4 separate regions of the Homo sapiens genome follow, and all the other regions are linked to region 1. The links come from fine-mapping of genetic effects on plasma protein levels. A gene starts in region 1. Each other region holds a variant in brackets. All regions are shown on one strand. Distances are from middle to middle.

Region 1 (2,668 bases):
GCAGAGGAGGCCGGGCTGTGCTGGGCGTCCTGCAGACCCCTGTGCCCCTGAAACAGCCATGGAGGGGGGAAGGAACCTCGGAGCGGAGTGAAGCCCTCGGCCGCACGTGACCGTTGCCAGCCTGGACCTGGCCCGGGGGACCCAGGCTGTGGTCAGCCACGCTCTGCGGGGAGGGCCCGTGCCTGCCACCCCCATGGCATAGGAGCCTGGGGTCCAGAGGGCGCCAGGGACAAAAGCTGGGATCTGCTGGCCCTGCCCCCACCCTACTGAGGGTCGTCAAGGAGATTGATCTCAGCCCAGGGGTGGACGAAGGGGTTCAGGTTACAGGGTCCCCTCCCCTCCCCCTCTCCAGCCAGAGCCAGCCCTTCCCCGCCCCGGTGACCCTCATGGCCAGTGGCTCTGTGCTCATGGGCCTCTGGCCCCTCCCCAACCTCCTCCCCTCTGCCCTGTGCTGACCAGGGCCTGGGAGCCCCCGCACGGTTCAGACAGAGGGGCCAGGCTGAAGCTGGAGAGGAACCAGCGTCACACAGACGGCCTCTGAGAACTTGGAGACCCCGTTACCCACCCAGCAGGGGTGTCAGGACAAGCATCTGCTGCAGGCTTCAGCCTCAGGGGCAAAAGGGAGCCCCGGGGTCCTGGTGGGGGCACCGACCACAGGCCCGGAGGGTGGATGCCTGCAGGAAGCTGGGCTCTGTGGAGCCCGAGGAGGGGCTGGTGGCCACACCCCCCGGCCCCCTGGCTCGGCGGCCCTCATGCCCGCCCTACGTCCACTCCTGCCGCTCCTGCTCCTCCTCCGGCTGACCTCGGGGGCTGGCTTGCTGCCAGGGCTGGGGAGCCACCCGGGCGTGTGCCCCAACCAGCTCAGCCCCAACCTGTGGGTGGACGCCCAGAGCACCTGTGAGCGCGAGTGTAGCAGGGACCAGGTGAGTGTGGTCGGGCCGGGGTCCTGGGGCTCAGAGCAGCCAGCCTGGGCAAGACCCTGCTGGAGGTGCCACCTTCTGCCTGGGCTCCCCAGACTTCTGGGGGGTCTGGGTCTGGGCCCCTTAAGGGGCCCAGAGACACCCCCATCGTTGCCCTCATTTGTCTTAAGAATAAGAGCCCTCCCCACTCCAGCTTTCATGCTCCCCATGTGCCTCCACCCTGGGGCACCATCATCCTCGGCGACCACCCCCACCCCGTCACTGCCTCTCCTCCCACCCTCTCCTCCCACCCTCTCCTCCCATCCACTTCTCCCACCCCTTCACTGCCTCTCCTTCCATCCTCTCCTCCCACCCTCTCCTCCCATCCACTCCTCCCATCCACTTCTTCCATCCTCTTCTCCCACCCCGTCACTGCCTCTCCTTCCATCCTCTCCTATCCACTCCTCCCATCCACTTCTTCCATCCTCTTCTCCCACCCCATCACTGCCTCTCCTTCCATCCTCTCCTATCCACTCCTCCCATCCACTTTTTCCATCCTCTTCTCTCACCCCGTCATTGCCTCTCCTTCCATCCTCTCCTCCCATCCACTTCTCCCACCCCTTCACTGCCTCTCCTCCCACCCTCTCCTCCCATCCACTCCTCCCATCCACTCCTCCCATCCACTTCTTCCATCCTCTTCTCCCACCCCGTCACTGCCTCTCCTTCCATCCTCTCCTCCCACCCTCTCCTTCCATCCTCTCCTCCCACCCTCTCCTTCCATCCACTGTCCTCCCTGTCCTCCCACCCTCCTTCCATCCGGGACCAGTGCAGATGGTGGTGGGGGTGCTGCAGCCGATGTCCAGCCTTTGTCCTGGCCCGCACCACCTGCTGGGTGGTCCTGAGCACTGTACGCCCTCCTTGGGCCTCAGTTTCCTCGTCTGTACAACGTAAAGAATAACGGAACTTGCTTGTGGGTGTGAGGATTCTGGAAGGTAAGCCAGGTGGCACCTCTGGCGAGGTGGCTCCTCACACAGGATGGAAAGGACACTGAGTCCCCGGGGAGGCAGCCACAGAGCGGGGGGCTCCCTGCTACCCCACCTGGGCCTCCCCTTGCAGGGGCCAGGCCAGAGCCCCGGGGCGGGGGGCATTGGGGCTCCCACCTAAGTGTCCCCCATCCCCAGGACTGTGCGGCTGCTGAGAAGTGCTGCATCAACGTGTGTGGACTGCACAGCTGCGTGGCAGCACGCTTCCCCGGCAGCCCAGCTGCGCCGACGACAGCGGCCTCCTGCGAGGGCTTTGTGTGCCCACAGCAGGGCTCGGACTGCGACATCTGGGACGGGCAGCCCGTGTGCCGCTGCCGCGACCGCTGTGAGAAGGAGCCCAGCTTCACCTGCGCCTCGGACGGCCTCACCTACTACAACCGCTGCTATATGGACGCCGAGGCCTGCCTGCGGGGCCTGCACCTCCACATCGTGCCCTGCAAGCACGTGCTCAGCTGGCCGCCCAGCAGCCCGGGGCCGCCGGAGACCACTGCCCGCCCCACACCTGGGGCCGCGCCCGTGCCTCCTGCCCTGTACAGCAGCCCCTCCCCACAGGCGGTGCAGGTTGGGGGTACGGCCAGCCTCCACTGCGACGTCAGCGGCCGCCCGCCGCCTGCTGTGACCTGGGAGAAGCAGAGTCACCAGCGAGAGAACCTGATCATGCGCCCTGATCAGATGTATGGCAACGTGGTGGTCACCAGCATCGGGCAGCTGGTGCTCTACAACGCG
Region 2 (2,643 bases), 58 kb after region 1:
GGCTCTCTGCTCACCACCCAGGCTGGCTGGGAGACCGCTGGGGCTCTGCCCTCCCTCACCCCACACCTAGCCTCAATTTCTGCTGGTCTCATCTCTTGCCTCTTCCCACTTGACTGCCCTGGCTCACATGCCGTCCAGCCCAACTTGCCCCATCCCTCCCCTGCCGATTCCCTTTCCCCCTGAGGAAGCCCTCTGGGAGTGATCCTGAGGGCCTCTGATGCACGGAGCCCTTTTCCGCCTGCATGGACAGGCTGGGCACCGGCAGAGACGCCCACCTGCCCTGACCTGCCTCTGTGGCCTCACCCGAGAAGGTGCTGACAGAGTCCTTTCTGCGGAGGTCAAAGCACTTCATGAAGCCATCCTGGGAGCCACTGAGCAGCACGTGGGCTTCGGTGGGGTGGAAGCAGACTTTGTTTACCGTGCGCTTGTGTTCTGTGAACAGCTGGTCCTGCTTGTTGCGGGATGGCCGGCCCAGGTTCCACGTGACCACCACGCCATTGGTGGCTGCTGTGGCCAGCAGGTTCTCATCCATCTGGTGCCAGACCACGTCAGCACAGCTCAGGTTAAGCGAAGGCTTGCGCCCCACACGCAGGTTCAGCTTTTCCACGAACTGTTCCTCCTCGATGGCATAGATCTTGAAGATGCTACGGCCTGCCACGACCACCTGGGCTGCGTCGCGGCACACACTGATGGCATTGGCGGGAGCATCCAGGTGGCAGTGCATGGTGCGGCCTGTCAGCACGCTGCCACCCAGGGCTGTGGTCACACGGGACATCTTCTCCATGGCTGCACAGGTGATGAGGTCAGGGGTCAGGAGGTCAGTGAGGTGGGCTGGCCTGGTCAGCCTGGGTGGGTCATCAGTTCAGACCTTCCACCCAGGTTGGGACCCCAGAACTGCTTGGTCCCGGGCTGGTCAGTCTTAGTGAGCCAATCCAGGGCTGTCTATCAGCCAATCAGCCTGACAGGCAAGCTCAAATTCACTGGAGTCTGTCAGTCCAGCCCATCACCCTGGCTGAGCGGTGAGGGGACTTCCTAGCTTCCCTTAGGCCTGTCAGTTTCATGTCTGACTTCCACGGAAGACTCTAGCTGGACATTCCCGGCCCAGGCCACCTCTCGGTACCCCCATCAGCCAGATCTGGGCAGTCACTAAACGCTCGGTCAGTCAATCCCAGCAGGGGAGCGAGGAGACTCCCGCCGTCCACACTGTCAGCCCTGAGGGCGGCGGGGCTCTAGGGAGGAACAAAAGAGGGGAGGGAACAGAGGGCTAGAGGGGCCCGGGGACTCAGGCGATAGACGCGGGAAGGGCCCAGAGGGACGTCAAGGACCGAGCTACTTAAGGAGCTCGAGGTGTCTGGCGGGACCGGAGGCAGGAGAGAAGCCGGCGACCCCGGAGTACAGGGTTCCTGGGAGCGGCGCAGTGGCGCGGGGGAGCGGACGCTGCGGGACGAGAACCAGAGGGCCCGGGGCAGCCCTTCTCCCCCGCGCGAACCCCAATCTTTTACTAAAAGCGCACGGTTGTCCGGAACCGCCGCGCCGGAAGCCGCTGTCTTTCCCGTCCCTCGCCGGAAGTGGTCCTCTTCTTACCCATCCCTCTCAGGAAGTGGGCACAAACTCTCGCCCGACACCACGAAAGTTCCGGGTCAGGGAGCTGCGTTGGCAGAGGCCAGGAGGGGCCCGGGATTGGGGTCTGCGGGCCGCCCTGGGCGTTGCCATTGCGCTGCGGTGCTGTGCTTGTGTGATTGGTTTATTTATTTATTTATTTAAACGGAGTCTCGCTCTGTCGCCCAGGCTGGAGTACAGTGGCGCGACCTTGGCTCATTGCAACCTCCACCTCCCAGGTTCAAGCGATTCTCCCGCCTCAGCCTCCCAAGTAGCTGGCACTACAGGCGCCCGCCACCACGCCCGGCTAATTTGGCTAATTTTGTATTTTTGGTAGACACGGGGTTTCACCGTGTTGGCCAGGCTGGTCTTAAAACTACTGAACTCAAGCGATCCTCTGGCGTCAGCCTCCTGAAGTGCTGGGAATGCAGGTGTGAGCCACCGCGCCTGGCCTGTTTTTTAAGTCTCAATTTCAGTATTTTAATGCCATCACCTATTTTAATCCCCAGGTCCATCATGACATCTGGTCATCCCTAGACAAGTTCCGAGTGCCCCCAGTCTTCCCCTCCTTCCTCACTCCTCGACCTCGGGAGCAGCCTCCCAACGGCTTTCCTGGGTCCGTCTTTCCCCTTTGATCAGAAACCCGCACAGAAGTCAGGCACCAGGTCTTCTGCCTGAGGCCTCTGGCAGCTCCCACTATGCTGTGAATGAACCCCAACTCCTGGCCTCCGCCTTCCCCTGCCCACCTCCAGCCATGGCAGCCTCCACCCCCATTCCCAGCCCACCAAGCCCTTTCCTGCCTCAGGGACATTGTACGTGCGTGCGATGCCTCCTCCACAGAGC[G/C]GACCTCCCTGACCACTGCCCTAATGGGCTTCTCCATCACTGTGGCCTCCACGGCACTTGTCACCACCCATTCGTTTGTTTACTGGTTGTTGTCGGTCACATACGAGTGTGAATTCCACCAAGGCAGGAATCACATTCTGGCTCAATCCCCACCGAATGCCCAGTGCCTGACACACCTGTTCAACCAGTTGCTCTCGTTCT
Region 3 (2,679 bases), 16 kb before region 1:
ATGGTGAACTGCTAACTCTGCCGCATCCCGATGGTGAACTGCCAAACTTTACCTCGTCCCGATGGTGAACTGCCTAAACCTCGTCCCGATGGTGAACTGCCTAACTCTACCGCATCCCGATGGTGAACTGCCTAACTCTACCACATCCCGATGGTGAACTGCTAACTCTGCCGCATCCCGATGGTGAACTGCCAAACTTTACCTCGTCCCGATGGTGAACTGCCTAAACCTCGTCCCGATGGTGAACTGCCTAACTCTACCGCATCCCGATGGTGAACTGCCTAACTCTACCACATCCCGATGGTGAACTGCTAACTCTGCCGTATCCCGATGGTGAACTGCCAAACTTTACCTCGTCCCGATGGTGAACTGCCTAACTCTACCTCGTCCCAATGGTGAACTGCCTAACTCTACCACATCCTGATGGTGAACTGCTAACTCTGCCGCATCCCGACGGTGAACTGCCAAACTCTACCTCGTCCCGACGGTGAACTGCCAAACTCTACCTCGTCCCAGTGGTGAACTGCTAACTCAGCCGCATCCCGATGGTGAACTGCCAAACTTTACCTCGTCCCGATAGTGAACTGCCTAACTCTACCGCATCCTGATGAACTGCTTAATGGCGTTGTCCCTGGGTACACATTGGGTGCAGCTCCTGCAGTCATGGGCTGCTCACAGCCGTGGCCCTTTTGGCACAACCATTGTTCCTTCTTGTCTTGGAAACGAGGACCCGAGGGAGACCATCCGTCCATCCTAAAATTGGGACGTTTGGTTTTCTGTTGTTGAGTTGGAGTTATTTGTAGAGTCTAGAGATCAGTCTCTAGGAGACGTGTGATCTGCAGACATTTCCCTCCATCTCTGGGTTGCATTTTTCTGTCCATTGATGGTGTCCTTCGATGCATGAGAACAGCCTTTGATGTACATGTAGGGGTTGGTCAGGCAGAAGGACGGTGTGGGTGGAAGCGCTGATGCCTGAAGAAGGGCACCGTAGGCAGAGAGACCGCATGGCTGGCTTGCAGGGCTGGGCCCGCACGGAGAGACAGATGTGCACAGACACACACACAAGCCCACTGGGCAGGTGCACTCCGTGGGAGGGCGTCGCTTATGTTTAAAAAGTGCCCGTTTCCAAGCCCCTTGGAGAAAGTGTCATAAAAAGACAAAACGTGAATGGTGTTTCTAAGGTGGGGGAAGGGGCTGAGCCCTAAAGGTAGAAGCTTCTGGAAAGTTTCCAGAGGGCCCAGAGCCTGTTTAAGATGTCGTGCCTGCGTTAAGTGTCCAGAACTGTCTGCTCCTTTCAGTTTCTCTTGGACTGACCTTTTCCTATAAAACTGTAAGGAAATAAAAAGTAATGATGTGATGTGGGCCGGGCACGGTGGCTCACACCTGTAATCCCAGCACTTTGGGAGGCCAAGG[C/T]GGGCGAATCACCTGAGGTCAGGAATTTGTGACCAGCTTAGCCAACGTGGCAAAACCCCGTCTCTACTAAAATTATAAAAATTAGCCGGCTGTGGTGGTGGGCACCTGTAATCCCAGCTACTTGGGAGGCTGAGGCAGGAGAATCGCTTGAACCCGGGAGGTGGAGGTTGTAGTGACCCGAGATTGTGGCACTGCACTGCAGCCTGGGCGACAGAGTGAGACTCCATCTCAAAAAAGAAAAAAAGGCCGGGTGCAGTGGCTCACGCCTGTAATCCTAGCACTTTGGGAGGCTGAGGCGGGTGGATCATGAGGTCAGGAGATCGAGACCATCCTGGCTAACACGGTGAAACCCCACCTCTACTAAAAATACAAAAAATTATCCGGGCATGGTGGCGGGCGCCTGTAGTTCAGCTACTCAGCAGGCTGAGGCTAGATAATGGCGTGAACCCGGGAGACGGAGCTTGCAGTGAGCAGAGATCGCACCACTGCACTCCAGCCTGGGTGACTGAGCAAGACTCTGTCTCAAAAAAAAAAAAAAATACCAATGTGGCAGGCAGGCTGGTGGCTGTCTGAGGTCAGTCCAGAGTCCGGAGAAGCAGCATTTTATTTATTTATTTATTTATTTATTTATTTATTGAGTACTGTCACCCAGGCAGGAGTGCAGTGACATGATCTCGGCTCACTGCAACCTCCACCTCCCAGCTTCAAGTGATTCTCCTGCCTCAGCCTCCCGAGTAGCTGGGATTAAAGGTGCCCACCACCACACCTGGCTAATTTTTTGTATTTTTAGTAGAGACGGGGTTTCACTGTGTTGGTCAGGCTGCTCTCAAACTCCCGACCTCATGATCCGCCCGCCTCGGCCTCCCAAAGTGCTGGGATTACAGGCGTGAGCCACCGCGCCCGGCCAGAAGCAGCATTTTTAAACTTGTTTGGCCCTCCCTAACACCAACCTTGGCAGTTCCTGGGCTGCAGTAAGCCGAGACTTGGAAATACATTCGCCTTGGAGAATTCAACTTCAAAATGCATACGAAGTAGGTCAGGGTGGAAATAAAGGCACTGCCCTTTCTCCAGGCACGCTGGAGTCCACGCCCTGCCTTTGCCCAATGCCCTCTGAGGGAGAGGCCCTGTGCCTTGCACCCAGCGCGGGCCACAGGCGGAGGCCCCATTCCAGGCAAGCCGTGCCCATGGAGAGGCTGGCCTGCTAGGCTGTGGGGCCCGATGGCCTGACACTGTATGGACCACGCTCCTGCCCTGCCCTGCCCCGCC
Region 4 (2,679 bases), 68 kb after region 1:
ACATGCACAGGAGCTTCCCTGGCTCAGAATCTACCCAAGGGGCTGGGTGCAGTGGCTGATGCCTGTAATTCTAGCACTTTGGGAGGCTGAGGTGGGTGGATTACAAGGTCAGGGGTTTGAGACCACCTGGCCAACATGGTGAAACCCCTTCTCTACTAAAAATACAAAAATTAGCCGGGCTTGGTGGCAGGCTCCTGTAATCCCAGCTACTTGGGAGGCTGAGGCAGGAGAATCACTTGAATCCAGGAGGCGGAGGTTGCAGCGAGCCGAGATCACACCACTGTACTCCAGCCTGGGGAACAGAGTGAGACTTTGTCTCAAAAAAAAAAAAAAAAAAAGAAAGAAAGAAAGAAAAAGAAAAAAAGAAAAGAAAAAGAAAAAAGAATCCATGCAAAGAAAGGGCGGGCATCTTCCCAGGGTGTGCTGTGGTGCCAGCATGGTTAGCCCTGGACACAAGCTGTCGCTTTAATCTTCTGCCCAATGAGAACGATGCTGTGATAGCTGTACCCACTGCACAGATGAGGAAACTGAGGCCAAGGCTGGGCAAACTGCCTGCCCGAGGTCATGGCCAGATAAGTGGTGAAGCCAAAGTTCGGGCAGAGCTGGCTGAGGAAGGCCATGCGGAGGTTATCTTCAGGCCAGCGACATCCACGCACAGGGTGGAGTGGGAGCAGTCCCGGGCACCCTCCTCAGGCCTCCAGTCTGTAAGTGGGTGGCAGGGGGCACTGGGCACAGCCACGGAAAGAAGCAGAGGTGGGACCCTCACTGTGCCACCATCTGCTCCACAGTTCGGATCTCCTGCCGCCCCCACCCCGACATCCGGGGAGGAGGTAGAGCCCCTGGGGTCACACGCCCTGGACTTGAAATGGGCCCCACCCTGGCTCTGTGGTCTTGGCAAGCCACTTCCCTTCTCTGAGCCTCAATTTCCTCACCTTGAAGCCTGGGGAGGTGACGGTACCTGCTCCCTTGGGGCATTGCAAAGTGAACGAGCTCAGTGCGTGGCTCATAGCAAGGTCTGGGAGAGTGATGTCTGAGCCCCACGGCCACACTCCAGGGCAAAGCAAGATGCATCTTCCCCGGTCTTAGGTGACTCCAGGACTAAGCCTGGAGCCTCATGCAGGTCCTGCCTTCCTGCCCCAAAATCTCAGAGGAGGGGCCAAAGCCTCTCCCAGCCCACCCTGCCCCCTCCTGCCACAGCCTCACTGGAAGGTCTCTTGGAGCCACCAAGGGGGTGTCTGAGAGTCTCCCACGAAGATTCCAACGCTTGGGGTGGGCCCTGCAATATGCAGACTCTCAGGAAGAGGATGGCTCACATCTTTTTGGCTGAGTGTCCCTTCTGGGGCTACAGGGCCTGGCCTGCTCCACCACAGAGAGTGGCGGGGTCTCGGACGGCACTGCAACCCCAAGGCCCGCAGCCCATTCCCCATAATCTGGTCAGGGGGGAGGGGAGGCAGGGAGGCAGGGAGGCAGTGGGAGGTCCTGCCCCGCTCTTCCCAGCAGCAGGTCCCCACACTGGCTTCCAAGCCCCAGACAGGGCCAGCCTTGCCACCGGTCCACATCTGGGGAGGGGGTGTAGACCGGAGC[C/T]GGGACCAGGGGTCTCGCCAGAACACGTGGCCCTCGTGGCTGAGAACCCAGCTTTGGGTTTAAAGTCCTTCCTGCCCTAATGGCAGGAGCCCCAGCTCCACCCTCTGTACCATCTCCCCCTCCCCAGAGTATCATTCGGGTCCTGGAAGGTGAGGCCGGGCCCTCCACAGAGGAGGCACCCACAGCCGGTGACCCCCATCATGTGCCCATGATCAGAAGGCGCGGCCTCCGGAGGCCGACATCACAACGTTTGCAAGGGCCGGCTGGGGTCGGCACATGATTCGACCTCACGGCCGCCCTTAGGGGTGGAGGGGTCGCTACCTCAGGTTTGGGGAAGGAACACGAGGCTCTGAGGAGCGAATTTGCCCCAGGTGTCCGGGGAGGCCTGGCGCGGGGCTGCCTCGGTTCCCTCCCAGAGCCGGGGAGAGGGGATATCGCAGGATGCCGGCGCCCGAGGCGGCAGCACCAGGCCCACGGGCGCCCCAGTCTAAATATCCTCCGTGCCCCTAGAGCGGGGACCCTCGCTCCCCAGACCCGGAAGCGCCGCCTTCCCCGCCAGGGACGCCTGGGCCTCCGCAGACCCCGCCGGCCGGCGCGCCACCCGCGCCAGCACCATGGACAGCGGCCGCCCCAGCCGCGCGCTCAGGGCCAGGCCCGGGCTGGCTTCCACCGCGGACGGCTGCGGGGTCGGGGCAGCCCCGCAATCCCAAATCCCGGCAGCCCCCGCTCAGCAGGGAGGGGCCCCGGGGGCGAAGAGTGGGGGAGAAGCCGGGAAGGATCCGGAGGAGGCGGCGGGGGCGGCGCCAGGGGAGGAATAATCCCGGCGCAGTGCCGATTTAGGTTGAAAACGCTCCCAGTCATGGGCCTGCACGTGGAGCGCCGGGGCTGGGGGAGGCATTCGCGGGGCTCCTTTCCCGCCCCGCTCGGGAGCTCACGTTTGCCGGCGCCCACAGTCCCGTCCCCACCTCCAGGCCTCAGGGTCGAGATGGAGAAACCAAGCCGCACTTTGAGAGCCCACAGGAGGGAGGGGACAGGCTGAGGAGCGGCCGTCTGGGTATGGGTCCGGGGCCTGGCTTCCCTCATCCACACCCGCAG

Which allele goes with the higher level. Positions count from the first base shown, and alleles are read on the strand shown. Strength reflects both the effect of a copy and how common the allele is.
For the plasma level of the protein whose gene starts at base 484 in region 1, allele C in region 2 goes with a higher level than allele G (weak association).
With allele T in place of C in region 3, the plasma level of the protein whose gene starts at base 484 in region 1 is lower (moderate association).
In carriers of allele T in region 4, the plasma level of the protein whose gene starts at base 484 in region 1 tends to be higher than with C alone (moderate association).

What was found. PIP is the chance, under the fine-mapping model, that this variant and not a neighbour inherited with it causes the effect. Protein levels are from antibody-based Olink assays in UK Biobank. Linkage for the fine-mapping came from a reference panel and not from the study's own genotypes, which makes the PIPs less certain.
Region 2: its variant is fine-mapped to the plasma level of the WFIKKN1 protein (UK Biobank, PIP 0.97).
Region 3: its variant is fine-mapped to the plasma level of the WFIKKN1 protein (UK Biobank, PIP above 0.99).
Region 4: its variant is fine-mapped to the plasma level of the WFIKKN1 protein (UK Biobank, PIP above 0.99).

What each region holds. Positions count from the first base shown.
Region 1 is chr16:630,502-633,169 of GRCh38, forward strand. WFIKKN1 (WAP, follistatin/kazal, immunoglobulin, kunitz and netrin domain containing 1) reads left to right here and starts at 484. Exons shown (of 2, transcript NM_053284.3): 1 at 484-923; 2 at 2,081-2,668. The coding sequence starts at 753. RefSeq lists an enhancer at 1-577.
Region 2 is chr16:688,857-691,499 of GRCh38, forward strand. WDR24 (WD repeat domain 24) reads right to left here and starts at 1,542. Exons shown (of 9, transcript NM_032259.4): 1 at 304-1,542. The coding sequence starts at 784. RefSeq lists an enhancer at 1,423-1,970. The variant G/C (reference allele first, on the strand shown) is at 2,443.
Region 3 is chr16:614,319-616,997 of GRCh38, forward strand. The region is part of intron 1 of RAB40C (RAB40C, member RAS oncogene family); the gene reads left to right. It overlaps LOC124903618 (a long non-coding RNA gene), which reads right to left and starts at 1,946. Exons shown (of 2, transcript XR_007064934.1): 1 at 1-1,946. The variant C/T (reference allele first, on the strand shown) is at 1,414.
Region 4 is chr16:698,595-701,273 of GRCh38, forward strand. The region is part of intron 1 of FBXL16 (F-box and leucine rich repeat protein 16); the gene reads right to left. Among named protein-coding and RNA genes, the nearest start is that of FBXL16, 5.9 kb to the right of the region's middle. RefSeq lists an enhancer at 1,463-2,292 and a silencer at 2,185-2,284. The variant C/T (reference allele first, on the strand shown) is at 1,585.